4 separate regions of the Homo sapiens genome follow, and all the other regions are linked to region 1. Evidence: fine-mapped expression QTL. A gene starts in region 1. Each other region holds a variant in brackets. All regions are shown on one strand. Distances are from middle to middle. Region 1 holds the start of SNX31 (sorting nexin 31). Region 2 overlaps SNX31 (sorting nexin 31). Region 3 overlaps SNX31 (sorting nexin 31). Region 4 overlaps SNX31 (sorting nexin 31).

Region 1 (8,206 bases):
TGTATTTTTGGTAGAGACAGGGTTTTGCCATGTTGCCCAGGCTGGTCTTGAACTCCCGAGCTCAGGCAGTCCACCCACCTTGGCCTCCCAGAGTGCTGGGATTGCAGGTGTGAATCACCATGCCCGGCCTCAGACTCTTTACCTATAAAATGAGAATGATGATGATGATTGAACTGCTGACCTTACTGGGGACTTGCTGGAACAAAATCCTGTGTCTGGAACTCGCATGACAGAGAGTAGATGTTGGAGGCCTGGGGTCAGGGCTGAATGAAGGGGATTGAGAGCAAAAAGACTATCGGGGCCAAGGGTAAACTTCCCCTTCATCCTCTGAAGCTTCACTGAAAAACCACCTGACAAAAGGCAGATTCATAGGAGGAAAGGCATACAAATTTACTAACATGCGCGGGAGTCTTACAAAATAAAAGATCTCAAAGAAATGGCCAAATAGTTGATGGTTTTATACCATCTTGAGATTACAGAAAAAAGCGGCATGGTCAAAAACAGGTTATGGTGGCAAATCAGGTTATGGTGGCAAGACAGGTCACGGGAAGAAGAGGAGAGACCCGGCAAGCAAAAGTGGTCTTAGTATACAGAGGAAACCCACAGGTAGCAGCTCTCAGAAAGAACAGTTGGTAAACATTTGTTTCAGACCTTTAAAGGTGTCAGACTCTCTGTGATTCTTTCCTAAATCTGAACAAGAGAGGACTTCAGAGAAAGCCTGGCTGCATCAATACAGATTCTCTCTACAGGTGCAAATCTCCTCCACAAAAGGCAGCTTTTCAGCTATTCTGATATTTCCAGCTTTCTACACAGCCATCTTGAAATATGTCATAGTAGTACATTTTGGGATAAAATATTTTGGTTTCCTTCAAGGACAAGGGGACTTTTAGAGTGAGGCAAAAAAAAATTTTAACCTCGATCATGGTGGTGGTAATTGTATACATTTACCAAAATTCATTACACTGAACCCATAAAGTTGGGGAATTTTATTACATTACATGATTCCAAAATACAGTAAAAGTATGTTAGTTTAGGACTCAGTCATTTGACTCATTGTTTTACTGATACGATTTATTTTATCAACGTTAGAAAGAAATCACATTAATGTAATAGGTCAGAGCAGGTTCTAGAAATCAAGTCCTGCCTCCAACATTAACAATATGACTTTAGGAAAATTGTGCCTCAGCTGCTTCACCTGTTAAATTGGACTAATTCTAATGCTAGCTCATAAGGCTATTATAAAAATTAAGCTATTACAGGTAAAGTGTTTGGTACCAAACTCAGCACACAGTAACTACTTGTTATTGTTTCAGATTGATTATAAATACCAATAGCCATCTAAGATCTAAATAGTTTCTTTAAAAATGTAGTAGTTTGTATAGAAAGGGGGAAAATGATAAATATTCATATGCGATATATGGAAGTTGGAAACTAGACAAAGAAATTTCCATTTTACTATTTTGAGAAATCTGGGATAAATATGAAATATTTATTAAAATCTATTTTATTAAAATCTATTGTATGTCCTACTGAGGGCACTGAGCCATGGTAATTCAATATTTAAAGGCCCCAATAGTAAATAACAGACAATTTCTACTTCATGTCTTACCAAATAGAAGATCAAGAATAAAATTTACTCACTCTATGCCTCTGCTTCTGGACCTGCTAGGATTTGGTTCATCTGAGTTTTCCTGAAAATAAGCATTTTCCCAAGTCTATTGGGTAAGGAGGGCCAGATTCAGGAGTGCTTGAAGCCTCTTGAGTCCACAAATGTTTGCTGAGCATATATTATGTACCAGGCTCTGCAAGCAGCTGGCCCCTAATCTTCACAAGCACACTGTGAGGCTGACATCCATAAGGACCCATTTGCTTATTATTTCTGATGAGAAAATTGAAGATCAGAGGAGAGGTGAGGTGATCAGCCAGGACGCAGTTGATCAGTCACAGGCTCTCTTGCTGCCTCCTGCTCTGCTCCTGCCCCTTCCCCACCTCAAGCTGCAGGAAAACAGAGGAGGGTAGGAGAGGATACCCTGCCTCCCCCTGCCAATGCCTAAGACACTCATCCTTTCTCTTCCTTTGAGATCCCTGCCTCTGCAGTCCTCACAATTCCCCATGTGTTTCAGTCACAAGTAGCTTCTTATCTTCCAGAAGTCTGAATCTATGCCATTCTTCATTCAATCATTTGACAATCGTTCCTAAGGACCTACTGGGTCACAGCACTAGTAATACAAAGATGACCACTCAAATTAACTAGTAACCACATTACAACTGTTCTTGGTTGACTCCAAAGATACTTAATCACACCTTGAAAATGGACTTTTCCAATGCACTGTGATGTATGAGCAAGAAGGCTTGCTACAGTGACAATTTAATAGCAGAAAAAACAAACTAAGCTGTCGGTCAACAGAAGATGGTTAAATGAAACATGGTGTATCTAACTCACTAGAAACCCAGAGACTGTCTGAAAAAACTCTCTCAAAACAAGCAAACAAACAAAAACAGCTGTTACCTCTGGGAAAGTTTTTTCAGTTTTCTCTACACTTTTTTTTTTTTTTTTTTTAATAGAGACAAGGTCTCGGCTATGTTGCCCAGGCTGGTCTCAAACTCTGGGACTCAAGTAATCCTCCTGCCTCAGTCTCCCAAAGTATTGGGATTACAAGCATGAGCCACGGTGCCTGGCCTATACTTTTGTTTTTAATGTTAGGTATGTGCTGTTTATAACCTAAAATCTAAAACAAAAAAACAAAAATCACTATTCATGGGGGAGTGGAGGAGGAGTGTAAAGTTTATTTCTAAACTTTCATTTACTTCTCTAATCCATTTTGAAGACTTATAACACCTCCTTATAAGAACAATGAAACCCATTAGAGCAGACTAATAAATCAGTCTGCCTCCCAGAGAAAATACTGTCAAGACAGCAGGGTGAGAAACTATCCTAGCTTGGTAAGTCATGTTCCCTGGTTCCCAGCCTGCCAGTACTTGAAGCCTCATGGCCATTCAAAAACAAAACTAGAGACACACCTTTTTAAAGGGGGCAAACTTAAGAAACTCTCGAGACAAAGGAGATTAAATACCCATGTACAAGACTCCAAAGACTCTAGGCCTTGATCTAGACCCAGTTTCCAAATTTTGGAGGGAAGCATTGTCCTGGGGAACAGCGGGCACTGAAATGGGGCCCAGCATAGCCCCAGCGCCCTGCCAGGCGGCGCTAGCGGGGATCACCCGGCTGCAACTGCGAGGGGCTTGGAAGAATCACCTGCGCCCGGTTCCCTCATCTCACAGCTGTAGGCGACCAGGAGCCGCAGCATGCATTCATCCAACTGTATGCCAAGCAATTCAGTTCATCCTTACCAGGACCCTGTTTCACAATAGGAAGCCCGAGGCCGTGAAAGGCCCAGTGTCTTGCCAGAGTCAGAGGAACAGAGCGCTTTGGGGACAGCTTTCTCCACCTGTCTCAGTGGATGGGCTCGTACCCGCCTCCAATCTGCTCACCTGTTCGTTCCAACCGTGCAGCTGGCTGTAGCGCACCCTGCAGAAGAGGAACCCGTCCAGGTGCACGGAGTACAGCTGCAAACACACAGACACCCCGTCCCTGGTGAGCCGAGGGATAAGTGAGCATTGCCACCGGCCCCCTCCCTGCCCACCCTGACCCCAGCCCTGGGCGCACCACGTAGCGGCCCCCCAGCGCGTCGGACCGCTGCTGGGACACCGGGATACAGAAATGCATCTTCATGGCTGAGCGGTGTCTTGGGAGTAGCGCTGGGAACCCGACCTGCGGCGGCGGGCGGTGCGCGGCTCTGAACTCGGCAGCGGTGGACGCAGCGCGGCCTGCCACGCGACTCAGAGCGAACCCCGGCGCCCGCTCTCGCCGGCCGGGGACATCTACAGGTGGGGCCGGGGCCGGGCCGCGCCGCCTCCCAGTCCCCGCCCCATCCAGCCCCGCCGCTCTGGTCCCGGGATAGGTGGCGCCTGGGGCTGGGGCGCATCCACGGCCACCCCCACCCCGGACATCGGCCACTGTTGGCATTTTCTCCAAGAAGGCCCGTGAGGGGCTTGAAAACAGTTTGTGTCCCATTACCTGCCAACGCTGCCTGCAGTGCACTAATTAAGATTTCTGTAATTACATAGATCTAGTAACTGCCTTATGATTAGCAGAGTTATGTTTGGTCAGTTTTTTTGTACTGACATTTGTTAAATGTAACACAAGACATGCAGCAATATATGCAACCTTGCTTTCGTATTATTCTTTCAATCTTGTTTTTTCCCCTTAAAATACCAGAAGCCCCCCCCAAATGGAAATGGCTTGGGTTTCTCTTGATCCCTGAGAAGCCCTCATTTTTAGACAGGTGCATTCACATAAACACTTGGTTCTCTGGACTACCCAGTGCAAGTTCTTTCAACAGTCTCTCATTTTTAGTTGCTGTGGAAAATAATCTTCCTAATTCTCTATTTTAGTTAAATGAAACTAGAATTCCTCCCACCTTGCCGTGATCACAGAGCACAGAGATGCTGCAGCTCTCACCAGCCTGTTCTGTAGCAAGCCTGGGCTGGCTCCGTTCTTCCCTCTCTCCTTTAATCTACCCGTAACTCTTCCAGGTAAACAGAGGACATCCTACCACGGACAAAACAGGCCCAGGGGGTGGAGGAACTTGTCCAAGCTCACAGGGCATTTTTTTCATGGGTCTGAGTCGTTTACTGCAGGATTTCATCAGGATCATTGAAAGTCCTTTCAAATGCCAGTCATCCCTGGGGTAAGAGCTGCATGCCTGAAACGGGAATCCGAGACTAAGGAAGGAGAAGCGACGCCTGCCAAACACCGGTGCCTCCTGCGTGCTTGCTGGGTGCCAGGACCTGACATATGCTATGCCATTTAATTTTCACAAACACCTGTGGGCTAGGAGCCATTGACAGTTCTGGTCTTATAGAAAAGGAAATTGAGGCTAGGGCCATTAAGTGAGGGAAGCAGTATCATATAGTAGTTAAGAGAATGGCAACAGGAATTCATGTCCCAGCTTAGTGGCTTCTAGTTGAGAGGCCTTGGGCAAATTAGTGTTTTTTGTGTTTTTTTGTTTTTTTTTTTTTTGTTTTGAGACAGAGTTTTGCTCTGGTTGCCCAGGCTGGAGTGCAATGGTGCGATCTCAGCTCACCACAACCTCTGCCTCCCGGGTTCAAGTGATTTTCCTGCCTCAGCCTCCTGAGTAGCTGGGATTACAGGCATACGCCACCACACCCGGCTAATTTTGTATTTTTAGTAGAGACAGGGTTTCTCCATGTTGGTCAGGCTGGTCTCAAACTCTTGACCTCAGGTGATCTGTCCACCTCGGCCTCCCAAAGTGCTGAGATTACAAGTGTGAAATTAGTGCACTCTTTAAGCTGCAGTTCCTTCTTATGAAATCATGTTAATAACTCTACTTACTTCAAGGGAATTTTCAGTCCAGGATAGATGGGCCTTAGGGTATTTCCCCTGCCCATAGGCCATCTCTGATCTGGAAGGCCTCCCTATACCAAGGCCAGGGGTATTCCTGAGTGCCTCTTGGGACAAAGCCTGATCACGGCAGCTCTGGAATCTGGTCTGATCTTCAGGGCAAAGCAGAGCATTTTGGTCAGACCCAGAAGTGGCCCCAGCTTTCCTGGAACTTTCCTGCTCCAGTGAATGGCCTGGACCCTGGTTTCACCCCATGGCATGTCCAAACAGGGCCATTTCCTTCCTTTCACTAAGTGCCCCCCTGGAGTTGAACTGGAACAGGACAGGCCTCTGTGCAAGTCACCGTCCTCTTGCATCCCTGACCTCTGCTGTAGCCAGTCAGCTCTTATTCAGTCATTCAGTCAGTGAACATTATTGAGCTCCTTCTGTGTACTCCACACTGTGCAAGACAATCTTCAAACATGACCAAGAGAGAAGTATAATAATGGTAGCAGCGATTGGAGGCGCTGCTCTGAACACTTTACATGAATGAAGTCATTTAATTCTCACAATTGCCTGAAGTAGGTACTGATATTATTCTCATTTCACAGATGGGGAAACTGAAGCATAGGGCAATGAAGAAACTTGCTCTGAATTGCAGAATTTGTGAATAGTAGATGGGGGATGTGAAGTAAGTGATCTGCCTCTAGAGCCTGTGCTCTGTGAAGCTGCTTTTCAGGGGTGCCTGGGGAAATCTGTACCACGACTTGACAAGCGCACCCTTTACAAGTTTTTAATTCTTTTTTTTTTTGAAACAGTGTCTTGCTCAGTCACCCAGGCCGGAGTGCAGTGGTGTGAGCTCGGCTCACTGCAAGCTCCACCTCCCGGGTTCATGCCATTCTCCTGCCTCGGCCTCCCGAGTAGCTGGGATTACAGGCACACGCCACAATGCCCGGCTAATTTTTTGTATTTTTAGTAGAGACGGGGTTTCACCGTGTTAGCCAGGATGGTCTCGATCTCCTGACCTCATGATCTACCCGCCTCGGCCTCCCAAAGTCGTGGGATTACAGGTGTGAGCCACCGCGCCCGGCCCACAGGTTTTTAATTCTTGATGGAGTTTTAAATAAACATTTATGATGCTCAATTTCTGAATCAATCCTATATTGTTTCCAAGGGGTATTTTAATTTACTCTGTGCCTGGTGCATGGTCAGCACTCAATAAAAGCTTAACATTTCTTCATTCAGGGAGTATTCATTGAGTGCTTCTTATGAGCCAGGCGCTGCAGTGAGGCTGTTAGACATGGCAGCCTCAGTCCCCTAACCTTATGGAGCCTAAGCTTATTTACAGATTTTAAAAAGAGGCCATTTCTGTAATATGGCCCATAGTATTACAGAACAAATGCACTATTTCCTACTTTGAAAGCCTTAGGCATTATTTGCATGTTGCCTCTCATCTACTTGGTGTGTAATCTTTTTGGCTCTTTGATATCTGGTACCCACACTCTTTTGGAGGTATGGATAATGAGGTATGGCTCTGTCTTGTTCTGGAACTTTCCACGTCTCCTGAGTCCTTCACACCCTTGGGCCTCTGGGATGGGGAGGGCAGTAGGGTCCACGAGGGAGCCAGTGAGATGGATCATAATGTCTGGTGCTCTACACCAGAGGGGCCCAGCCAATGTGCATTATGGGTTCCTTTGCTGCATCTTTTCTTATAGCCCAGGTGTTGCGCACATCACCCCAACAGTCAAGGCTGTGGCCATATGAAAAAAAGGGTCTTGAGCAAACATGGAAGAGATTCCTGGTTGGTGGACACCTATTTTGAGCAAACACAGAAAGGGATAGGAGCTGGAAGGTTGGGCATGCAGAGTTAAGTCTTCGCATCCTGTGTATTTTTCTTCATCTGCCTGTGTCCTCCTCACTCTCTTGAGGTTCAGACGAGTGAGTCAGAAAGGTAAGGCTGGATGGCTTGGGATGTGTATCTTTCTCTGTCTTTACTTGTATTGGTCTGTGTTGGGTGCTCTAGGGTCTTTGGAATTTGAGGAAATATATAAAATTATACGATACATAGGAGAACTACAAAATCACACCAGTGGTTCTAAAATGTCCATGGTTCCTGGAGGATTTTCTGGTCCAGAACACCTACTCAGAGACTGACTGTAGTTGGTTGAATAGTGTCCTGATTTGGAAATAGGGTCTTGGCAGACATCATAAGGTAAGGCTCAAGATGAGATCCTACTGGATTAGGGCAGCTCCACATCCAATTAGCGTATCCTTATAAGGCACAGAAAAGGAAATACAGAGACACAGAGGAGAAGGCCACATGAAGACGAGGCAGAGCTGGAGTTGTGCTTCCAGAAGCCAAGAAGCGCCTCAGGCCACCAGAAGCTCAGGAGAACAAGGAAGGAGTCAGCCCTAGAGCTTTCAGAGAGAGCACGGCTCTGCCGACACTTTGATTTCAGACTTCCAGCCTCCAGAACTATGAGAGAATTCATTTCTGTGGTCGTAAGCCACCCAGTTTGAGGCACTTTGTTATGGAAGCCATAAGGAAAACCTACACTGATGCTGTGGCCACAGTCAGCCTCATACCAGAGAGCAGAGGGCTGAGCCCCTGGCCGTGTGCGCATCTGTGGAGAATGGAACAGAGGAAGAGCAGCTCAGAGGAAAGGAGACAGTGTCCTGCAATCTGAGGGACAGTGTCCTGAATGTAGTAACAAGACTGGCTAACCCTATGCAGCACTCACTCTTGGCCAGACATAACTCTGTGTAACATGCACAAACTCATTTAATGCTTGCAACAACCAT
Region 2 (8,000 bases), 37 kb before region 1:
GTTTAGTGGCTCCAAGCCAACATGGCCTATGATCTACGGTGCTGTCTGAGCTCTTGGTGACCCTCACCTGCATGTAGAGCAAATCTACCGCCACCCTGCAGTCCATCAGCACGGAGTCGAGGGATGGAGCCATATACCTGCAAAATTCAGGAGTGTGAAATTCATTCCTGTGACATGGCCCATGGGCACACCTGGCAAGTGCTTTGGAAAGTGGTGGCCCTCTACCCTATGAACCAGGGCCCCCTTTTCCAACAAAGCCACACCTCCACTTGCCCAGCTTTCACTCTGCCCCTCCACCTCTTTCGTTTCCTAATTTCTTTACACCGTAAGCTCTTGCCTGGAGGGCTCTAAGAGTAAAGAGGCACAAAAATAAAGCTTTAGGGGAATGGTCTGCATCCCTGTTCACATTCAGCCTCACTCTTGGCCACCAAGATGCGGATTCCCTTTCTCCACCGCACAATACCTGGCATAGTCAACTGCCCCACACAGACCTACCCCCATATTCACCACCCTGCAGCAGGGCCACCCTCATCTCTTGCCTGAGCTGCTCTGGGAGCCTCCTTTCCAGGCTTTCTGTCTCAGCCATGTGCCCTTAATCTGATGCTCCACATTCTAACCAGAGTGGTCTTTCCTGTGAAACTTTTCAGACTCTCATTGTTCCTGGAGTTAGATATTTATTCTACTCACTTTCAAGGCCCTTCCGGGGACCACCCCCACTTTCATTTCCAGTTCCATCTCTCACCAACCCCACCACCAACGCTACATTCCAACCATGTTTTCTCTCCTCTCTCCCTGCCTGGAAGACCAAGGCCCTCACCAGTCTCCTCCCCTGACTGATTGGCCTTTCTTTGCAAGCCTTATGCAGTGCCCCCTCCTCTGGTCCCTACTCCCCAAGGCTGTATTAGCCGCCTGTCCACTGTGCTTCCTCTGCACCCTGAGTTTATTCCAATTGCCACTCTGATTAAGTTTTCTTGACACCATCTGTGAAGAACCCCAAGGCCAGGGGCCTATCCAGAGTTGCCCCTCTGAATCTTGACAGAGTGATTTGCAAATAGCAGGGGCTCCGTGTCTGCCTGTCAGATCCAGAATCACGAGGAACTGAAATTAATGACTGTAGAAGCACAGTAGCATGTTAAGAAGGGACTGAAACTGTCAGGAAAGGGTACCTATGGCTGATCTCTACCAACCAGAAGGCAGAGGCAAGCAGAGTTGCTATGCTCAGAATAGGGTGAATAGACCAATGGGGTTGGCTTAGACCAGGAAAGGGATAAATATGGTGCTTGAAGGTCAACTTCATTCTGGGGTGGGGAGAAGTAACTGAAGCATCCCTACTTACATTCCAGGTAACTATGCACCCACACATCCCAGAGGCCCCTGTGTGCAGAGAATAGACCCATCCCAGACTGGGGCTCCCACAGGCCAGCACAGGTACCCTGTGGCCTGGAGGAAGCCATATCATCATCATTGGAGAGATGCACCCAGGCATCTCTCCTTAAGGACAGAGAAGTCCTTAAGACGCCACTTAGGCCTCACTGAGGCTTCACCTGCTGGGAATCACTCAGCTTTTGGAGCTAGCCTTCCAGCTCCCATGCGGCAAGACTTCCCTCTGGAAAGAGGGCAAGGCACCTGCAGGAGCCTATGCCAGAATCTCCCCTCCAGAGACCTGATCCTCAGCTCTGACAATAGAAGTGGAACCTCCTTTCTTCCCAGTTCCCATCAACAGAGGCAATCTGCCTAGATCTGAGATGCTGGCTAATAATTTGGGGTAGACGTTTTCTCTTGCACGTATCATCTAGAGTTTACGTATTTAAAAAAGACATAGGCAATGCCTAATTTCTAATTCAAGCTTCAAGGTAAGAAACAGAATCATCATCTCTCCTTTGATCTCAGGTTTTATGAAGCGCACATGAGTGAAAATCTAAGCCCCAAAGATTTTTTTTTTTTTTTTGCTTCCTATAATCACCATCATCATCAATATAACAGTCACAAACATGACCAAAACTTACTGAGCATATGGGACTATTTTACATAACTCTTGCAATAACCCTTATAATAATCCAATAAACTATTTTTATTATTCCCATTTTACAGATAAAGAAACTGAGGCTTAGAGAGCTTGAACGACTTGGCTAGGTTTACGCAGCTAAGACCTGAGCAAGGCGCAACTTAGATTCACATACTGTAATTCCAGGAACAACTGTGCTCAGCCATTCACTACAGCAAGCAGCTTCCAGAACAGCTGTTCTCTAAACCATTGGATGGAACTGAGTTCTTCTCCCCTTCTCAGGGTTTCACATCTCAAGATCTGGACCATTCCTCAGGATACTTCTGAACAGCAGTATATGAACTGCCTTGCTGGGAATATCCTTCCACAATTCAAAGCCACAAACTGGAGCTCTAGAGCAAGGCATCACAAGGTCAAGGGAATTCTTAGATTTCAAAATACCTTTCTTTAAAACTTCTGTACTCAGATAACAGAATAAATGGGCTGGGAGAGAGCGAGCCTAAGGAGCAATCCCCTGCAGCCACGGTAATAAACACTGGGAGCTGCAGGTTATAGGACTGGGGGTGCATAAGGTCCTGCTGCTCAGCGCTATTTTCTATAATATTTTGTTCTCCACAGGCTCCTGTGTTACTGGAGGAAATGACAGTATTTTCTGCAGAGGGATACTTGTGTCCTACCTATCTAGGAATATGGATGGCCCTGTACACATCCTTTAGGCATGTGTAAGCCCAGTACTTAGAGTTCAAATTCACTGCAACCTGGCTGAATCCACCCTTCACCTTCAGGGAATACCACACTTCTACGGATAAATCAGATCTGGTTGTAATCATCAACAAAGTCCCTCCATTAATGCAGCCAGTGATGCATTGCAAAGCAAACCCAAGGCCAGCCATTTCCCACCATTACCTGCTTTAATCCATGTCCCCTGGCCCCGCCCCTGGTTTTCAAGTCTTACTTTCTTGTTCGCCTATCAGTAGAGATGCAGAAAGATGGCTACCCTCCTCATTTTCATACCCCACCCCGCCCTGAGTATTTACCTGAGACTACTGATAGTCACCCTCAACATCCTATTCTTTAGGACAAATATTCAGAAACCAGTTTATTTCACCCTCTCTCATTTTCATTGCTTTTCTTTTCTTTTTGAGACAGGGTCTTGCACTGTTGCCCAGGTTGCAGTGCAGTGGTGTAATCTTGGCTCACTGCAGCCTCGATCTTCTGGGCTTAAGTGTGTCTCCTGCCTCAGCCTCCTGAATAGCTGGACCACAGATGCACAACACCACATCTGGCTAATTTTTTTGATTTTTAGTGGAGATGAGGTCTTGCTATGTTGCCCAGGCTGATCTTGAACTCCTGGGCTCCAGCAATCATCTTGCCTTGGTCTCCCAAGGTACTGGGATTATAGGCATAAGCCACAGCACCTGGCCTTCATTGCTTTTCTCAGAGCCTTCTCTAAGTTCTTGGTCTCCAGCTGTCAGGCTATGAGCAGGATGTGACGGGACTCTGGTAAGTCCTGATGGGCAATGGCGAAGTGTCGTCAAACGCCTCTGTCACTTTCAGAACCTACTTACCACTTTCGGAGTCCAACCTTACAGTTTTCCACCTCAGAACTTCCAAGACTAACATAAGGGAGTTCAAAGTCAGCCAATTTTTTCACAACTAGAGAAAGGAGAAAGCCGGTCTTACTGGTTGAAACAGCACAGACAGCTTATATATAGCAGCTTTCAAATGAGAAAATAAAACCTTATTATTGGAAATAATAAAATCACAGTAAGAATATCCTCTGTATTTACACGTAATTTTAACTTTCTGAAGTTCATTCAAAAAATAAATATCATTTGATCCTCAAAAAAAAACAGCCCCTTGAGTGGGGGGTGTTTTACACTGTGATATAGATGAAAAAATAGATCCGGAGACATCCAGCGCCTTCGCAGCTCACCGCAGGGCCTAGCAGCCAACCCTCTAC[A/G]CAAGCCCCTTAACTTCCAACTCAAAACCACCTCCCCTGGCTTCTTGAGGACATTTATAAACTACTTTAATATAACTGATACCATTTTACAAAAAAAAAAAACTTGTAATATCTAGAAACATACTGTAGAGAAAACAAAAGATAGGAGAATCAGACTGTCTTCTTACACTATCTCATTACACTTGAAAAAAGAATCTAATAACTCATTGATACCATCCACAAATATTCCTTAACAAGGAGAAATGATGCTGTGGTGGGGCGTCCTGACCCCTGGAGTCTAGCACTCCATTCACAGGAAACGGTGCAGGCGAGTGGTCAGTGGTCAGGCCGGGCCTGCGGTAAAGGGGAGGGGGTCAGGATTAGGGCTGGGGGTACACAAGTGCAGTTACTGGACCACCCAAGGTATGAGCGGTTTGCCCCCACTCTCCCCTAACAAGGACGCAACCTCCTATTCCCTAAACCCTTAACCCAGTGACTGAGAACAGTGGTAGGGATCACAGCCCAGTGGGTGGCCAGCCCCTCAGCTGTGACTCCTATGAGCCCCTGCTCACACCTGTCCACCCCATCTCCTAGCTGATTCATTTGTTCCTTCCTTCTTACCAGAGAGCTTGCCCTCCTTGCCAAACCGAATGAGAAAGAGGCCGAAGTAGCCCAAGAGCTCTCGACACAGTCCAATTTTGTGTGACACCACCTTTAACCAGAAACAAGCAGAAAGGGAAAAAGTTAGGTGTGCCCACCATGCATCCTAACTGTGACATGCAGACTTGGAAATGGCCGGTACACATCAATAAAAAATGCTGTCATGGGTTAGTGAACACTCAAAGAAAGCTTTTTGGAATCAAAAAATGGTATCCATCTTAGAAAATTTTAAAACACAAAAAAATTAGAATAAAGAAAATAAAAATCAGCCCCACCACAATGGACAGAGGCTGGCCCCAAGTTGAGGTTGGTCATCCCATCTCAGATGTGGACTCACTCCCGGATTGTCTTGGTCTTTATTTTCCCCTGGAGGGCAGCAGCCATGTTCCATGAACATCTGTCCTTCTGTGATGTCTGTCCCTGGAACCTGCACACTAGTTTACCTTCCTGTGGGCTGCATTACCAGCTATTTGGAAAAGGATCACTCCCCGCCGCTTGGCTGGCATACAAACGTGCATGCGCTACTGCCCACCTTTGACACGCCAGGCCTGCTTCGCCTTGATGTTTCCTGCGATGGTCAACTGTAATTTACTAGGATGTTTGCAAAATGAAAACCTCAGATGCCAGGCACAGGTTGCCTTCCTTCACATTCCTCTTTGACTTATATCAAACAGCTTTCATTTCAACGCCAGTGGCTTCATTTTTACCATCAGCCTACCAGGGTGTCACCTCACAGCATTGGACATCTACTCACGCTCCCTTAGCAGAAAATTCTACACGACCACAGGCTTCCTCCCTGCCATCTGCCCAGCCCAGCCCCTATTTAACACTGGGCTCTCGAGTAATTTCTTTATACTCCTGGTCTTAACTCACTAAATCACCTCTGTACCACGCAAGGAGAGGCCTCCAAGCACTGCCCTCCAGAGCTGCTTTACCCACGACTCCCAGTTCTCTAGGTGGCAGTTGTACAAATACCAGGCTCACAGGGGGCCTTCTCTTGTCAGAGATACATAAATTACCCCCAGGAAGCAGTCTGATTAGGTGGCTGGTATGAGTGGGTGTTCTCAGCATAGCTTTGAAAATAAAGAGCAGCTGAGGAATAGTTTCACCACTTTCAAAGCAATTCCCTTCCCCTTCTTTCTGTCTCTCTCTTTCCCCCATGTTTTGGGCTGCAAAACACCCAAAAGCCAAACACAGTGGGTAAGTGTGTGGTAGGTAACAGCATAGTAAAGACATCTTTCCCAGAGTAAACCTGACCCAGGTCCACTCAAGTTAGATTTCCTTCTTTTCTGTCTAATTCAGGGAAAACAACAAGCTTACATGCCAAGGCAGACAGAGGAAAGGCATGGGGGCAAAAGGAGAATGAAGAAGCCTTTCGCATTCATAAAGACATAAATATAAACACCTTCTTTTGAGAGGAGTGAGCATCAGCAAAAAAATACGTAATAATATTTTTCCTCTTAGCAAATGTTAATGATGATTCAAAACACGAACGCCATCACTAGCACCACAGTAGTCCTAGATTTTAGCTTGCTGCTGGCCCTTAAAGAGGCCATTGAGGCCCGGCACGGTGGCTCATGCCTGTAATCCCAGCACTTTGGAAGGCTGAGGCGGGTTGATCACCTAAGGTCAGGAGTTCAAAACCAGCCTGGCCAACATAGTGAAACCCCATCTCTACTTAAAAAAAAATACAAAAATTAGCTGGGTATGGTGGCACGTGCTTGTAATCCCAGCTACTCAGGAGCTGAGGAAGGAGAATCGCTTGAACCTGGGAGGCAGAGGTTGCAGTGAGCCAAGATTGTACCATTGCATTCCAGCCTAGGCAACAAGAGTGAAACTCCATTTCAAAACAACAACCAAAAAAGAGACCATTGAAAAGTAAAAGGCAGGCTGTGGGTGAGGCAAACCTGGGGAAGCAAAGTGAGAATGGCAGCAAGTGTGCTGGAGAAGATGCAGAAGGCGATTTTTAATTATAAAACTTAAATTATGGTTTTATGCAAGCTAGAGAATTTCCCAGCTCCTGGAAGGAAATTCACACCTGTGGCTGACCAAGTGACCACTTCACCTGTTATGGAAACTACCACTTCTAGGGTAGAACCTCCAGTTAAACTTACCTGATCTGATGATGTCAACGTCTTGGGTCTGAATTTCTCACAAGCCAACATGATTGGAAGAGAGGAAGCACATTTTTCTGACTGCAAATGTACTTCATCAAATGTATGCTATTAGTTTCAAGGGAAATGGACAAAACAGATGGTACCACAGAACCCTGGAGATACTGCCCTACTCAGTACGTATTCAGCACTCCCTCCAATATCAAGATCAATACCAATACCAATAATGATAAATAAACACAACTGCCATTGTCTCGGGAACGTGAACTATTTCTATAATTATTTACTTAGACATTGTCTGTAAAGTAACTTACCCAAATTCACACAGCCCTTACACAGCAACACTGTGCAGCTGTGTTTTGCTTAATGACAGGAATACATTCTGAGAAATGCATCGTTAGGCGATTTTGTTGTTGTGTGAACACTGCGAAGTGAACTTACACAAATCTAAATGGTATTGCCTGCTATACACCTAGGCTAGACGGTATGGCCCGCTGTTCCCAGGCTACAAGCCTGTTAGCCCAGGTTTATAGTAGTATAGTAGGCATGTTACTGTACTAAATACTCTAGGCAACTGTAACATGCTGGTAAGTATTGGTGTATCTAAACATATCTATTGTTATTATTATTATTATTTTTGGAGACGGAGTCTTGCTCTGTCGCCCAGGCTGGAGTGCAGTGGCGCGATCTCGGCTCACTGCAAGCTCCGCCTCCCGGGTTCACGCCATTCTCCTGCCTCAGCCTCCTGAGTAGCTGGGACTACAGGCACCCGCCACCACGCCCGGCTAATTTTTTTTTTGTATTTTTCAGTAGAGATGTGGTCTCACTGTGTTAGCCAGAATGGTCTCGATCTCCTGACCTCGTGATCCGCCCACCTTGGCCTCCCAAAGTGCTGGGATTACAGGCGTGAGCCACAGTGCCTGGCCAAAACATATCTAGACATAGAGAAAGTACAGTAAAATATTGTATCATAAACTTATGGGACCACCATTGTATATGCAGTCCAATGTTGACCGAAACGTCATTATTATGTGGCACATGACTGTAATTTGAATCCAGGACTCATCCTAAACCCAGAAGATAGGAGACCCCAAACTATCACCACCACCACTGGCTTCAGCTGCAGGCATGTCTAGTTTGGTCAGCAAGCCCAGTGTGTAAAAAAAGAAGTCAATGATGATGTCTTTGGGGAAGGCAGGTGCTCTCTCCTGTTCTATATCTGATCCTGCAGCTGTACCCCAGAGCTACCTGCCTGGCCCCAGACACATGCAGTCTGTGG
Region 3 (8,199 bases), 78 kb before region 1:
GTGCAAAATCACTAAGGTCAGCACCTTTAAATCAACAGAATGTCTAACCTCTTTCAAGCTATCACACAAGTAAAGCTATTTGGTTAGCTAAAGACTTTGCCCTACAGAAAAATACATGGGCTAGGGCTAGACCAAAGACCCAAACCCACCAATGACATCATGTACTTTTCTGTAGCTGTCTAATTTTTCTTAAAATTGTGGTACAGACAACTTACTTCATAAGAATACAACTGTTAGCTATTATAAAGTAACTTATGAGCAAAATGTAATTATACCTCAATAAAGTGGGGAGAAAGTACAATTACAAAGCTTAAAAGCCATCTTCTAAGAAATCGTTGGTTAGCCATACTTTTTTTAAGTTAACTCAGCATGTCTTTTTGTGTGTGACAGAAAAGCATACCTACTTTTTTGACATTTTTCTTGGACTATGGGTGACAGGAAGGAGAGAACTCTCCCGTCTTCCACAGTCCTGCGTCCACGCAAGCCACTCCCCTCATGGGCCACTGAATACACGCTGCAGGACAAGGGACAGCTAAAACAGCAGCTGAGAAAGTAGACTTGCCTCTATTGCTGAGTTTTCTTTTGTAGTTTTCCTTTGTTTGGTATTTTAGAATCATTTTGCCACTGTTTTACCACCAAAGGTTGGCACCTACTTGTTTTTTCCACAAATTAGGAACACCAAGCTCTTCTCAATTTTACTTTGAGGGTAATCTTAAGGTAATTTCTAACTGAAATGTTTAATGTAAAATTTGCTTAAATGTCCATGTGGGGATGTGTGCAAGCTGTATGCTGACCACACGCTGATGTAAACTGAGACCTAGTTCTGGGGAGGATGTTAGCTTATATATATATATATGGGATTTTAGAGTTATGAGCCAGGAACCATGGATGAAAACCAATATATATGTATCATAATACCACCAGCCACTGATGGGGACAGTCCTTTAGTCCCTTCATGTTGAGTGTTAACACATACTTGTGAAGGCATGTAAACCAGCCCTTCATTTTATCTCCCCATTCTAGACAACCGATGTTCTAATTAGTTGTTCTACTTCTCTATTACTAAACGTTTACTCTAAACTATCAGGCCACCCCCTGGTTTTCAAACACAGATCCCTTTCATCAAAAGAATATACAGGCCAGGCATGGTGGCTTACACCTGTAATTCCAGCACTTTCGGAGGCAGAGGTAGTAGGATCACTTGAGACCAGGAGTTTGAGACCAGCCTAGGCAACATAGCAAGACCTTGTCTCTACAGAAAAATAATTTTTACAAAAGGACATACAATTCAAAAGATATCGCCTTATTACTAGAATCCCACACAGTCATTAATAATTAGTCCAGTCCATCATTGTGTATGAATGTCTCCCAGAGTAAAGTCACTCAGGTTTGCAGGTTTCCTCTCAATCTTATCAGGTGCCAAAAACAGGAGTGGTCTTGGCACCTAGCCTCACCCTTTGAGGCATCTGGAATAACTGAGCTGAGACATCATGTCATCTTTTGCTCTGAGACTCTTTTGAGGTATTAATGTAATATTGAATTTCCTTCCATTAATAACCTTTTTTTTTTCTTTACTCTCAGCTACTTTTTCTCCTTCTCTCCATTAATACTCAAACTTTTTCACCTTTGGAAGGGACATTAGAATTGCCACTGTGCTGGTCTAGATTGTGGGCAGCAATACTAGTCTAGCAAGTAGCTCCTCCTCAATCCACCGCCATTCAGATAGGGTAAGGTTACACAGGTGCAGAACTAGTGAGCTAGTTTTGCCACCAGAGAACATAGCTGCATTCACTCTTGATCCCAATTTCTTAGATGGGGTGAAGGCACAACCCGCCCCCATTATCCCCTTAGGAATTCAGATACAAAGTTTAAAAATGTAGTTACAGCTTCTTGCTTAGAAATCATCCTTGCTTCCAGCACTTGTAGTTGTAGCCCTGGTCCTAGGATCATTGCATCAGGTAGAGGAGAGAAAAAAAAATTGAGGTTGTTTGGGGAAGAGAGAGAAAATTATAGTCATTATACTAGTGTACTCCTCCCTTGGCAAGAATTGCATAGTCATATCAGCATCCTCCCCAATCCCTCTTCCCAAATCAACCAAAAAAAAAAAAAAAAAAACAAACAAAGAAAACACAAAAATCTAGTGGGGACACTCCTTTAGTCCCATTCATGTTGAGTGTTAGCACCTACCTGTGAAGGTGTGTAAGCCAGCCCTTCATAATTTATCTCCCTGTTCTAGACAACCAATGTTTTATACTCCTTCTACTTCTCTATTACTAAACTATTACTCTAAGGAGGTATCTCTCTGCCCATTGTTGGATATTATGGCTTATACATTGTTCCTTGGTCTGAAGAAATGACAGTTTTCTGTACAAATCCATGCAAGTCTTCAGTTCTTGTTTTTTTATGGTGCTCTGAGCATTTTCATCTTCCACTAAGGAAGCAAAGCCCAGTCCACAGTCAGTGTCTAATTCCTGTCAAGACCAATGTGTAGCCCCCCCAGGGCTACCAGCATCAGTTTCACTTGCCAGCTCTGGTCAGGGCCTTCCCACCAGGCAATCTGCCCCATAGCCACTGGAAGTTTCTGTCTCTCTTGCTGACAAACAGGACAGTTCTTATTGGCATTCTGTGCCTGCAAAGATGCAAAAGGAACATGTTTAGATTCATCCCATCTCTGCACTGCTGCAGTATTCCTATATCCACTCACTTCATGGACCAGGTGATGACCACAAGGGCAGACACGGAGATAACTGCTTGTCTATTCCAGTCACCTTCTCAGCCTGGGGAGGAAGTTCTTCTGATGGGCATTGACTTATTCTCCTTTAATGCACCCCTCAAATTTCTATAGGGCTATGCACCATATGGACATTCCTTTAATAGATCAGATTTCCATAGTCCTCTTGCCTGAGTGTATGGCCAGGCCATTGGTCACTGCTCACGAATCAGTAAAAACCCAAACATGGAGGCTTCTACTACTGTTCAGTTCTTCCATTACTGTAAGAAAGACAGCATGCAGTTCAGCCCCCTCAGCTAATCTGTTTTTACCTTCTTTGATCAAAGCAGCAGCCTTCCAAACAGGAGGATGTTGTCCATTCACTTTGGAAATGCTTTCTGTAAACAGAGCAGCTCCTTATTGGTCAATCAAGAGCTGTTCACAGTGCACTGTCCAAGTGTCTATAGAAACCAGCAGCACCTTACAGTCTGTGTCAGTCCTGGGGGTAAAGAGGCTCCCTGCTCATGAATATCTCCTTCTTGCATTCCCCAGGTGGCATGATCCCCTAGAAACAATTTCCATTTTATTGGGGAACTCTTCTGGGCACTGCCACTCCCTGTAGCATGTTTCTCTGCTGTCAGCTCTTCAATCAAAGCCTGCACATGCTTCCCTCCATAGGGCCCAAAGGGGCTCGGTGGGGCCTGACCACAATTTAATCACCTCTGTCCAATAGTTATTCTCATTATGATTTGTGTGAAATTTTCAAACTCAGTTGTGTTTGCCTGTGGGCAAATTGTTTATGCCAGTTATTTTAGGAGTATAAACAGCAGTAAAATCTCATATGAATGTCTAGAAGTGGAAAGAAGTGATGGTGGATATAGACATTGCAGGAGAAAATGTGGTTGCCTGGGGACCATTTTTGCAGGGATATGAGGAGTGGACAAAGGCATAGGCTGGTAATTGGCAAAGCCATGTCACACCCCTTAGGATTAGCAGTTACTGAAGGATATCAACAGTCACCTACCTGATAAAGCCACGCACCAGCTGATGGCTTCTCCAGTGCTGGGG[T/C]GGCTGTGCCGGTGGCAGGGACTACCGCAGAGTGAGGTCCTCACCTCCTGGAGTGATGAGGGGGTCTCACTCGCCATCTTCTCCCAGCACCTGCAGCTGGGGAGCTCACTCTGGCAGCTGAAGTTCTGACTTTTTACGCAATGATCAAGTGTTTTGATCCAGAAGTGATTTAAACTCCTAAATTCCTAGATAAAACTAGGCCCAGTAATCCCCCAAAAAGGCTAATAGCTCCTTCTTCTCTCACATAACTACTAAGAAATGTATCATTTTACAAAATAAGTTTTGAATTTTGTTTCAATTTTTGTTTTATCATGTGCTACCCTAGTTCCTTTATTCTTCATGTTATATTTATATACTGTGGAATGCATGTCATCAATTGTATTTTTCTTCTCATATTCTGACACTGATGATAATCTCAATGTTTGGAAAAAAAACTATTAAATAAAATGCTTCTGTTTTTGTGCATCCTCAAAGGACAAACTGCTCTACATATACTGTAGAGATGCTGCATTAGGATATACATATATTTCTGATCCATCCCACTTCTTAGCTTTATCTCCTAACTACTCCCTTAACCTAAAACTTCGCTAGCACAGAACAAGTTTACTCATTTTTCTACAATGCCACATTTAATCTCCCATCTGTAACTATCCTTCCCTTTCTCTAGGGTGCCCCACCTTTGCTCACATGGCTCTACTCTTTCTTCAAAGTCCCTCTTCCCCTTGGGGCTTTCCTGATGGCCCCGACGTCCTTTGACATGCAGGTCCACACTACGCTGTTGTTGTTGTTGTTTAATAGATATTGGGTCTCACTATGTTACCCAAGCTGGTCTTGAACTACTGGGCTCAAGTGATCGTCCCGCCTTGGCCTCCCAAAGTGCTGGGGTTACAGGAGTAAGCCACCACGCCCAGCCCACATAGCACACTTTTGACACCAACCACATGTTGTCTGGGATTACTCTCTTACATATCAAGTTGAAACATGAAATTGTCAACATAAAACTATTTTTGGCCTACAAAGACAGCAATTATATATGGTTCAATTTATGTGTCTTCTTACTCCAAATACAATTTGTTGCATTCTTGTTTTCTCTGATAGCCTCTTCCATTGTGTAGGTGTTTGCTATTAAAAAGAGATAGAGCTTGACTACTCTTAAATTGGCAAAATAGTAGATAAACTTCCATTTTAATCTGAAGAGGATCCTAGTCCATTAACACATTCACTTAGGATGATTTGAGATGTTTGTGAGTCTCTGCAAAAATATCCTACTACAGCCTAAAATTTAAATATAAAAACTTCCAGTACTAGGAGTTACAGCTATAGGCATATGTTTATAAATATTATAGAATTTTTAATAGATTCTATATTTCAAAAAGATTATTCACAGAATTTTAATCAACAAATTTTATATTCACTGGAATTATTTTGTATTTATTATATAATTAGGTATACAACCCAGTTAGAACATTAGAATATTGTACTTTTTCTAATTACACTATACAGATTCCTCTGATCATCTCCCTTATTGTGGTCTTAATTCTATACATAATTACATTAATTACCATGAGAGAAATGAAGCTAGATAAGGAAAAACCTTGTGAGAAAGTATACATATTTTTAAAGCTAAGAGAATTATAAGGTATCTGATATCAGGTGCAGAGCCTTATTGCTTTCCAAATTAAAACATTCCAAATAGCATGTTGATTATTGAACTGCCTTCAGTACTCTAAGGACAGAATAAAATTATAACAATGGTCAAGCAGAGAACAGGGCAGCGTTTCACTTTGAGTACATCCATATTGGTAGGCTCAGACTTATGTGAGGAAAGAGATCAGTATTTCATCACCTCCTTGCTCTAGTTCTGTGTGGATAGATCAGAGAACCCAGGTTTCTTTTTCAGTGATTCCATTTCTCAGAGCCCTATTCTCCTCCGTTGAAGAGTCACATCTTTAGAAATCGATCCAAAATATCTTTATGATATTTTATGAGACTTTCATTTATGTAAATTCAAAACACATAAAAGACTTCATGAAGCCATATAAAGATCTATTTTAGAGAAAAAATAGAATGAGTTTTATATGAGTTGATTTGAATTTGCCACTTGTCATTTATGAGACATTAAAAACAAACTCTATACTGTCATGACGAAGTGCAAAAATAAAATAAAAACTAACTCTATAACTTGGTTCTTTTTTTTTTTCTAATCTTGAGATTTCCATAGAGTGCTGTGGTATAATACCTTGATGAATACAGTCCATGTTAATGCCAAAAAAATGGGAAGAGGTCAAATTTCCTCCACTGATGGTAGGTAGCCCACCTGAATCCCCAAGTTCTTTCACTGTCTTGAGATAGCCTCCAAGGATATTTTAAAATATGAGAGCTTTCTTCAGAGATCTTCTTCCTTTATGTTCCCAAAAACGCAGTCATCTTTAGCTATCTTAATCTTGCTTTTTCTTGATAGAAAACTAGAATAGTCTTTCTGCTGTGAAGTAAACAGAGAGGTCAGAAATGTAAATGAAAGGAAATCATTTCCATAACAATAACAAAGTCACAGAGGTTAAAACAGTATTGAAAGGGCAACAGAAAGCTTACATTTGTATAAGCAATGGTTATTTTAAACAGTTTTATTCTGTAGAAGCTTTATTTTGGGGTGAGTGTAAATACACTCGTTAGGACTGAGAAGAGCACCGCCTACTGGTTTTATGTGTCCTCTGCATCTTTCAGGGCCCTGGGATATCACCCAGGTTAACATTTAACTCTACCTGTCTTGCCTCTTTCCCCTCTTAAAGCCATGCGACTTTCAATTTTTAACTTTGCCCAAAATCTTTAGTGCACATTCCACACAAATACAAACTTTAAAAAAGAGGCTGGGCGGCCAGGCGCAGTGGCTCATGCCTGTAATCCCAACACTTTGGGAGGCCAAGGCGGGCAGATCACGAGTTCAGGAGATCAAGACCACCCTGGCCAACGTGGTGAAACCCCATCTCTAATAAAATACAAAAAAATTAGCTAGGCATGGTGGCTGGCGCCTGTGGTCCGAGCTATTCGGGAGGCTGAGGCAGGGGAATCACTTGAACCCTGGAGGCAGAGGTTTCAGTGAGCCAAGATTGTGCCACTGCACTTCAGCCTGGCAACAGAGTGAGACTCCGTCTAAAAAAAAAAAAAAAAAGAAGAGGCCGTGTACAGTGGCTCACGCCTGTAATCCCAGCACGTTGGGAGGCTGAGGTGGTGGATCACTTGAGGCCAGGAGTACGAGACCAGCCTGGCCAGCATGGTGAAACCCCATCTCTACCAAAACTACAAAAACTAGCCGGATGTGGTGGTGCACACCTGTAATCCCAGCTACTCAGGAGGCTGAGGCAGGAGGATCGCTTGAACCTGGGAGGTGGAGGTTGCAATGAGCCGAGATGGCACCACCGCACTCCAGCCTGGGCAAGGGAGCGAGACTCTGTCTCATTAGAAAAAAAAAGTGTTATGCTTATTTTAAAACATTTTAGAGGTTAGGGTTACCGCAAATCTTTAAAGAGTAATTTGCCTTCAGTACTTATGAAATCTCAAAGACACGGTTATGGAAAGTGGAAAGTGAAAAAAAAAATGTGGAGCCCCTCAGTGGGCAGATGGGCTACAACTTTTTTTCTACGAGGGATTTGTTTTGATAGAGGGGCCTCACTGCCAAGTGGTTAAAGCAACAAACTAATTTTATTTGTTAAACAACAAATAAAGACTGCTTGGGTTCAAATACTGGCTCTGATATTAACTGACTGTGTGACCTTGAGCAAGTGACTTAACCTTTCTGTGTTTCAGTTCTCTGTGCAGTAAGCCAAGGATAATAACAGTGCTTTGGTTGTTTATTGGGATTAAACGAGTTATACATAAAAAGTAATTATAGCAGTTCATGGCTCAGGATAAGGTCTATACAACAGTTTGCAAAATAAATTAAAACTCAATATAGTTGGACACTAGGTCTCTTTCCGACCTGCTGGTCCTACTCACAGCATGAGATAGGTTGGCCTGTATTAGAGTTACCACTCATCCGAGAGGACAACTGAACTGATCACAGTTGTGCTGAGTGTTATCTGTTGTCCTAGGACAGTGGCTCTCAAACTTGAACATGCATCAGATTTGTCTGGTGGGCGTGTTAAAGAGATTGCTGCGGCCTTCCCCCAGAGCTGCTGATCCAGTAGGTTTGGGGCCTGAGAATTTGAATTTCTAATAAGATCCACGTGATACAGATGCTGTTGGTCCAGGGACCACACACTGAGAACTGGTGTTCTAGGATAATGGTTCCAATTCTGGTTGTATAATAGGACCACTTGGGGAGCTTTTAAAAATTCCATTGCCCAGGCCCCTCAGACCAATTAAATCCAAATTTCTGAGGGTGGGGCTCAAGCATTAGTTTTTAGAGCTCCCCAGGTGATTCC
Region 4 (8,000 bases), 22 kb before region 1:
GACTTTGGGTAGATCATCTCGAAGGGAAAGAAACTGATGTGCTTGACTATGGGGAAAATTCTGTCTTCAGGGCTGCTATAGGTACGGAAGGAGTTTAGTCATATGTTTTGAGACAACTAAGCATTTTTTTTTCTGTTAAGTGATTCAGTTTTAACTCCAGTTGGGGGGGAGGTGGGGGGATGCGGGGAGGAAAGAGGAAGGTGTTGACTCAGGACTTAATTTTTTAAAATTAAAGTTAGGGGAGAAAGGAAGAATAGAAGTGACACAAGAAAGCTGAAATCCTCACATCCATCACAGTCAGTGGATAGGGTCTAAAAATTGAAGAATAATAGCTGGGTGCTATGGCATATACCTGTAATCCCAGCTCCTGGGGAAGCTGAAGAGGAAGGATCACTTGAGCCCAGGAGATGGAGTCCTGGGCAACATAGTGAGATCCTGTATCTAGAAAAAAATAAAACGAAGAATGAGAGATAGTCATATATGTATATAATTAACCTCCATATTTTTAAGTATCTGAAGAGAAAGCTGTAAGATTTGAAAGTCATTGCCTCTGGAGGACAGGGGAGTGTTATAATCCTTTTAATCACTATTTCACTGCTATTTTTAGATTTTTAACTTTTATTCCATCCATGATGTCTATTTCATTTTTCTAACTATAAGCACATTTTGCTTTGGTAAGTAAACAAACATTTTAGAGCAATATAATAAAGAGGAGAATTGATGGCATCAAAAGATCTTGGTGTGATGAGACCAAAGCAAGCACAAAACAGATCAAACAAGTTTAGAGTGGAAATCAAACAACAATTTGGCTCTATTTGTGATATTTGAATTTTACTAGAATGTTTTAATGTATAATTCACAAAATTAATGAAATGTAAACGCAATACAAAAACCAGCTGGGGGGAAAAGTCAACCTGGTAGAATTGGCTTGTATAAAAAAACAAAACATTAAATGAGCTGCTATCCTTTTTCTTTTTTTTTAAAGTCAGGGTCTTGCTCTGTTTCCCAGGCTGGAGTACAGTGGGCTGATCATAGCTCACCGTAGCCTCAAAGCTCTGGGCTCAAGCAATCCTCCTGCCTCAGCCTCCAGAGTAGCGGGGGCTATAGACACGTGCCACTACCCCCATCTAAATATCTCTTATTATTATTTTTTTGTAGAGACAGAGTCTCACTATGTTGCCCAGGCTGGTCTTCAACTCCTGGCCTCAAGTAATTCTCCCACCTCAGCCCCCCAAAGTTCTGGGATTACAGGTGTGAGCCACCACGTTTGGCCCAGCTGCCATACTTATCTATAATGCAGCAGGAATGAAAAAATGCAATTCATACTAGAAAACTAACAAAAATACATTCATTTTAAAGAAACCTCAAAATCCTCCAATACCATGGGCTGCCTTAATGTTTTAAAATACGTGCTTTGTTGCTATTCTGCTCTGAGGCAGAGGAACATTCTTAAGAATGTTTTCCATTTCCCTTGTAGAGAAATGACAGCGGCCCATCATTGCATGTGATGGAGGTTTAGAGCCTGGTGAGTCCACATATGGATTTTCTTGGATGCGCACCATGGCTATTAGACATTCCTCTGCCTCAGAGCAGAATAGCAACAAAGCACACCGATCTCCTTGAAAAATTAAAAGATTTCTCCAGTTGTTAAATTCAACTCAATTCAACTCAAAAAGAGCACATATTTTGAAAAGTGTTAAGGTTCTGGGAAGTGACTGTTACCTCTGTCCTGCCCTCTCTTTAGAAGCAAACAGAAAACAATGAAAAGGAAAGCATCCTTGAAGAAACTTACAAATAGCCCTGAGCCTGAGGTTTTCAGAAGGGCTGCCAAGTGCGTTGAAAATTGAACCTGGTCAGGAAGGAGGGAATCAGAGGTCTCAAAGTGCTGCAGAACTCAAGCAACGCATAAGCTGCCTCAAAGCAGTTAATCACATGGTGCTCAGCCTGTCTGAGAGCGCTACTCCGGGCCCCACTGGACACCACCTAGTGGCAGGGGATGCTGAAGAGATGTACAGACACTCCATCTTTGCAAAAAGCAATCTCTCAGCATGGCTGGGGAAAGAAAAGGGACTGGCATTAAGATTTTGCTTTTTAAAACCTATATCTTGGCCAGGCATGGTAGCTCACACCTATAATCCCAGCAGTTTGGGAGGCCGAGATGGGTAGATCACCTGAGGTCAGGAGTTCAAGACCAGCCTGACCAACATGGAGAAACCCCATCTCTACTAAAATACAAAAATTAACTGGGTGTGGTGGCATGCGCCTGTAGTCCCAGCAACTCAGGAGGCTGAGACAGGAGAATCGCTTGAACCCAGGAGGTGAAGGTAGTGACTACCTCATATCTATTAACATTGTGCCGGATGATATGCTTTAAGGGTATCAGTTAATTTAATCCTCAAAGCAACCCCAAGAGACAGGAGCTCTTCTCCCCATTTTACAGATGGGGAAACTGAGGTACAAAAAGCCTAAGTAAATTGACCCAAGTCATATAAATCAAAAGTAGGGCAGCCAAAATTTGAACTGAGGCCATCTCACTACTTAGCCTGAACTCTTAACCCCTAGACCAGGTCGGGGGCTGCTGATCTTAGTCAATCAAAATATTTAGAAGGCTAGATCATGATATGAGGAGCTGGGGTTTAAAGCTTTGCTGCTAGACAGTCTGATTAGGCCTTAGGGTAGCATGTTCATAAGAAAGTGCTCAGAAACAAGAAACAAGAACTGGAAATACAACAGATTCGATGAATTCAACTCAGGCCCCCTCCCCAGTACTATGTGTCAGCAAACAGCTAGCTCACAACAGCAGCCTGTTTCAAAGTTGATTGATGACTTAAAGATAACTGGCAAGGGATCTATGCAAAAATCCTGCAAGAAAGGAGGAAAGAAACATGACCAATGAAAGGCAAATAACATATACCAAAAGAATTACATCATTAAGCAGATGAAAATAAAAAGAAGGTGTTTCTGAATGAAGACCTCAAAGAATAGATAAAAGCCTCAAGAAATAAGATAACAAAAGGATATAAAAGTGAGCTGGTAAAGTTCACGGAAGAAATGGAAGAGGAAAATAAAGCCATTACAAAAGTGAAAATTGTGTTAGAAAAAGTAAAAAGAGGCACTGAAAAACACAGCTAGAGGTATAAGGCTTTTGTATGAAGTCACAAAGGCAAAATATTAAGGAAATGAAATCAGGTATAAAACCTTTCAAATTATCAGGAAAATAAGATACACAAAACTGGCTGGGCGCAGTGGCTCACGTCTGTAATCCCAGCACTTTGGGAGGCTGAGGCGGGAAGATCACAAGGTCAGGAGTTCAAGACCAGCCTGACCAACATGGTAAAATCCTGTCTCTACTAAAAATACAAAAATTAGCCAGGCGTGGTGGCACATGCCTTTAATCCCAGCTACTTGGGAGGCTGAGGCAATAGAATCACTTGAAACTGGGAGGTGGAAGTTGTGGTGAGCCGAGATCATGCCATTGCACTGTAGCCTGGGCAACAAGAGCAAAACTCCATCTCAAAAACAAACAAACAAACAAACAGAGATATACAAAACAAAGCTTAACAACATTGAATGATCCCATGAATGATGGAAAGCAAAACCCAGAATGCACCCCAAAAAGACGACTGAACTAAAGTCAACTTACGATTACATGTGCAGATATAGAATGATCTGCAAGACATAGGTCTAAAAGAGCAACGTCAATTTAAAAAAATTTTTTTTTCGAGACAGAGTCTTGCTCTTTCACCTAGTCTGGATTGCAGTGGCATGATCTCAGCTCACTGTAACCTCCACCTCCTGGGTTCAAGCAATTCTGCCTCAGCCTCCCAAGTAGCTGGGATTGCAGGCATGCACCACCACGACCGGCTAAATTTTTATTTTTGCAGAGATGGGGTTTCACCACATTGGCCAGGCTGGTCTCAAACTCCTGACCTCAGGTGATCCGCCCACCTCAGCCTCCCAAAGTGCTGGGATTACAGACGTGAGCCACAGCACCCGGGCATTAAAAAGCAAGGGCTAATATCCAGAATCTACAATGAACTCAAACAAATTTACAAGAAAAAAACAAACAACTCCATCAAAAAGTGGGCAAAGGATATGAACAGACACTTCTCAAAAGAAGACATTTATGCAGCCAAAAAACACATGAAAAAATGCTCATCATCACTGGCCATCAGAGAAATGCAAATCAAAACCACAAAGAGATACCATTTCACACCAGTTAGAATGGCAATCATTAAAAAGTCAGGAAACAACAGGTGCTGGAGGGGATGTGGAAAAATAGGAACACTTTTACACTGTTGGTGGGACTGTAAACTAGTTCAACCATTGTGGGAGTCAGTGTGGCGATTCCTCAGGGATCTAGAACTAGAAATATCATTTGACCCAGCCATCCCATTACTGGGTATATACCCAAAGGATTATAAATCATGCTGCT[A/C]TAAAGACACACACACACATATGTTTATTGCGGCACTATTCATAATAGCAAAGACTTGGAACCAACCCAAATGTCCAACAATGATAGACTGGATTAAGAAAATGTGGCACATATATACCATGGAATACTATGCAGCCATAAAAAATGATGAGATCATATCCTTTGTAGGGACATGGATGAAGCTGGAAACCATCATTCTCAGCAAACTATCGCAAGGACAAAAAAACAAACACCGCATGTTCTCACTCATAGGTGGGAATTGAACAATGAGAACACATGGACACAGGAAGGGGAACATCACACACTGGGGACTGTTGTGGGGTGGGGGGAAGGGGGAGGGATAGCATTAGGATATATACCTAATGCTAAATGACGAGTTAATGGGTGCAGCACACCAACATGGCACATGTCTACATATGTAACAAACCTGCATATTGTGCACATGTACCCTAAAACTTAAAGTATAATAATAATAAAATTTTTTTAAAAAAGCAAGTTGAAAAAATGTGTTGAGTGTGCGCTTGTTTGTAAAATAAAATGGGTGTGTGTGTGTGTGTGTGTGTGTGTGTGTGTGTGTAGTCATGTACCCCTTAATGACATTTTGGTCAACAGCAAACTGCACATATGGCAGTAGTCCCACAAAATGATAGTACCATATTTTTACTGTGCCTTTTCTATGTTTAGATACACAAATACCAAGGTGTTTCAATTGTCTACAGTATGCAGTACAGTAACATAGTATACAGGTTTGTAGCCTAGGGGCAGTAGGCTCTACCATCTAGGTTTGTGGTGTTCACACAATGACAAAATCGCCTAATGATGCATTTATCAGAACGAATCCACATTTTTAAGTGACACATGATTGTGTGTGTGCATGTATGTGTATATATATGTGTGCATGTACATATATATGTATATATATGCATGCTTATATATGTGCAGAAATGTGTAGCAAAAGAGCACTATAAACTATTAGACTATACACAACAGTTGTCACTGAGGAGGGGGATCATAAGGGAAGAAAAGTTACTTTTCATTGTATACGCTTGGCTATTTGAATTTTACTATCATCACCACTTCCACAGCAAACTTTTCAAAGAATAGGAAAGTGTGTGTATATATAAACCATCAAGAAATTGTGAAAATATGAACCACTACAGAACAGAAGGCTCTAGGGCCATTTCTCAGGTTGACTGGGCCAGTAAATATTCCAACACATTTGAACCCCTGTTTACATGAGATTTGTTGTGAGAACCCAATGGGATTTTATTTTATAAATGAGTAAATGAATGAATGAAATGTGTTCTCATTTTTGCAAATCTGATCATTCCTCCCCTGGCTAAGGATCCAGTTAACTAGTATCATATTACTGCGGAACTTAAATTCTTTCAGAGCTTTTCCAGCCAAGCTCATACATACAGGCATAACAATGTTTCCTTATGTGTCATTAGAATGAGTGTTGTGCTAAACAAACGTACTTAGCAGTTTCAGCCTAGGGAGCAAGTGACCCATGACTCTTTAGACCAACAAAGGAAAGGGAGTTGCTGTATGTCATTCTGTTCATGTTGAATTTTCTCCATGATTCATTTACAATAAAGGTAGGAGTAGAGAATATACAAGGAATAGCCAGCATGGCCTGCTTTCCTGATGTCTTCACTGTGGCCCATTTGGAAATCTCAGCTACAGAAGCAGGGTCACAGACATGTTATGGGAACCCTTAATGATAAAGGCTGTAGTTCTTGTACTGTACTTGAAGGTCCTCTTCTTCATGTCCTGTTTTGAGATGTATGATTCTTAGGCTACAGAAAAAGGGATCTACTTAATAAAATGAGCCAAAGGTCAAGTGACACACTTCATTTTCCATCTAAAATCTAAACCTCCAAAAGAACAAAATAGGAACCATCCCCCAATTGACTTGAAATGAATATATTTTGTCCAAGTCCAGGCTCTGTGGGGCTGTGACCAGTGCACACATGTGTGTGTACCTGCACACTTGGTTCATGAAGAGTGTCCTGCAGAGGAATGATGGCCCCATTAAAGAAGAGCAAGCTTACCAGCTGCGCCAGTTTTAAAAACTCAACGAAGACATCACTTCTCAACACGTTTGGGTCCATGGTTACTGAAAAACATGGACGGTGAGCCAGGTTAGCATGGGCTGGGCTGGGCCCTGCCTATTAATTGCTATGTCCTCCAGAGATCCCTCCATGCCTTGCCAGTGCTCTGTCTCCTCCCTGAAGTGATAAATGTTGAAACCTCTCAAATACAGGAAAACCCCCAAAGCTTGCCTCCTATAGGCAGCCTTAACAACAGGAACCCATGACACCCATCCAGGGTGACAGTGTTCCCAGGCATCTCACTTTATTTATACAAACCCATACTACTGAACATCCATTTTGCTGCCCTACCAGGATGATAATGAAGTTTATATGAAGAATCAGAAAGATCTTAAAACCTGCATCTAGACTCCCAGCCTAGCAAGACACAGGGTAATTTGAAAATTTAATTCAACCAAGAAACATCAACTGAGAGCACCTCTTTGGAGTCTCGCCCAGTCGCCCAGGCTGGAGTGTAGTGGCGTGAGCTCGGCTCACTGCAATGTCCGTCTCCTGGGTTAAGACGATTCTCTTGCCTCAGCCTCTGAAGTAGCTGGGATTACAGGCACTCACCACCATGCCCGGCTAATTTTTGTATTTTTAGTAGAGATGGGGTTTCACCATGTTGGCCAGGCTGGTCTCAAATGCCCAACCTCAGGTGATCTGCCTGCCTTGGCCTCCCAAAATGCTGGGATTACAGGTGTGAGCCACAGCACCCGGCCGAGAGCACCCCTTTGAATGATAGGAGTTCTCGAGATGTTACCAAAAAAAAGCAATGATAAGGCAGTCAGAGAGATTTAAAATATTTCATTCTTCTATAATTAACAAAAATATTTTTACCCTTAGTTTTAAAGCTCCTGACACAAATAGCCAGGAGATATGGGCAGAGCAGATGGGGCAGACACACCCCCATGAGAACTGCAAACCCACAAGGTATGGCCCAGCCTGGTTCCTCCTGGTTTACCCCCACTTGCCACAGATCCTCTCCTATATCCTGCGCTTCAGCTACACTTACATACTTACTAAATGCTGCCAAATTTCTTTCTTCCTTCTGTTTTCATTGCTGTTTTACTTTTTTTTTTTTTTTTTTGAGATGGAGTCTTGCTCTGTCACCCAGGCTGGGGTGCAATGGCGTGATTTCACCTCACTGCAACCTCCACCTCCCAGGTTCAAGCAATTCTCCTGCCTCAGTCTCTCAAGTTTTTGGGATTACAGGAGTGCGCCACCACACCCGGCCTGTTTTACTAATTTTATCAAACATCCTCTACCAGCATTCAAAACTATCACTGACTTCATTGCAGGCTGTGCCTTTCCCAAAAGACATCATGTTTTCCAAAATAAACGAAGAGAGAAAGTCCCTGCAACATGAGAAACTATTTATAAAAAGCATTCTGTCTTTTCTGAGGGGTAATTCCCGGAGTGGAGGAGGGGAAGCCCTTGCATTATTTTCTGCAATGGGGCATATAGTCAAA

What was found. PIP is the estimated chance that this variant, and not a neighbour inherited with it, causes the effect. A credible set is the group of variants that fine-mapping cannot tell apart.
Region 2: its variant is the best candidate, but not a certain one, in a credible set for the expression of SNX31 in left ventricle (GTEx, PIP 0.61).
Region 3: its variant is the best candidate, but not a certain one, in a credible set for the expression of SNX31 in skeletal muscle (GTEx, PIP 0.60).
Region 4: its variant is the best candidate, but not a certain one, in a credible set for the expression of SNX31 in subcutaneous fat (GTEx, PIP 0.76).

What each region holds. Positions count from the first base shown.
Region 1 is chr8:100,645,782-100,653,987 of GRCh38, forward strand. It overlaps SNX31 (sorting nexin 31), which reads right to left and starts at 3,884. Exons shown (of 14, transcript NM_152628.4): 1 at 3,668-3,884; 2 at 3,493-3,567. The coding sequence starts at 3,733.
Region 2 is chr8:100,608,427-100,616,426 of GRCh38, forward strand. SNX31 (sorting nexin 31) reads right to left here. Exons shown (of 14, transcript NM_152628.4): 6 at 4,569-4,659; 7 at 3,574-3,661; 8 at 68-137. Among named protein-coding and RNA genes, the nearest start is that of SNX31, 37 kb to the right of the region's middle. The variant A/G (reference allele first, on the strand shown) is at 3,969.
Region 3 is chr8:100,567,701-100,575,899 of GRCh38, forward strand. It overlaps SNX31 (sorting nexin 31), which reads right to left. Exons shown (of 14, transcript NM_152628.4): 14 at 5,189-6,260. The coding sequence ends at 6,165. Among named protein-coding and RNA genes, the nearest start is that of ANKRD46, 12 kb to the left of the region's middle. The variant T/C (reference allele first, on the strand shown) is at 3,779.
Region 4 is chr8:100,623,838-100,631,837 of GRCh38, forward strand. SNX31 (sorting nexin 31) reads right to left here. Exons shown (of 14, transcript NM_152628.4): 4 at 6,490-6,554. Among named protein-coding and RNA genes, the nearest start is that of SNX31, 22 kb to the right of the region's middle. The variant A/C (reference allele first, on the strand shown) is at 4,436.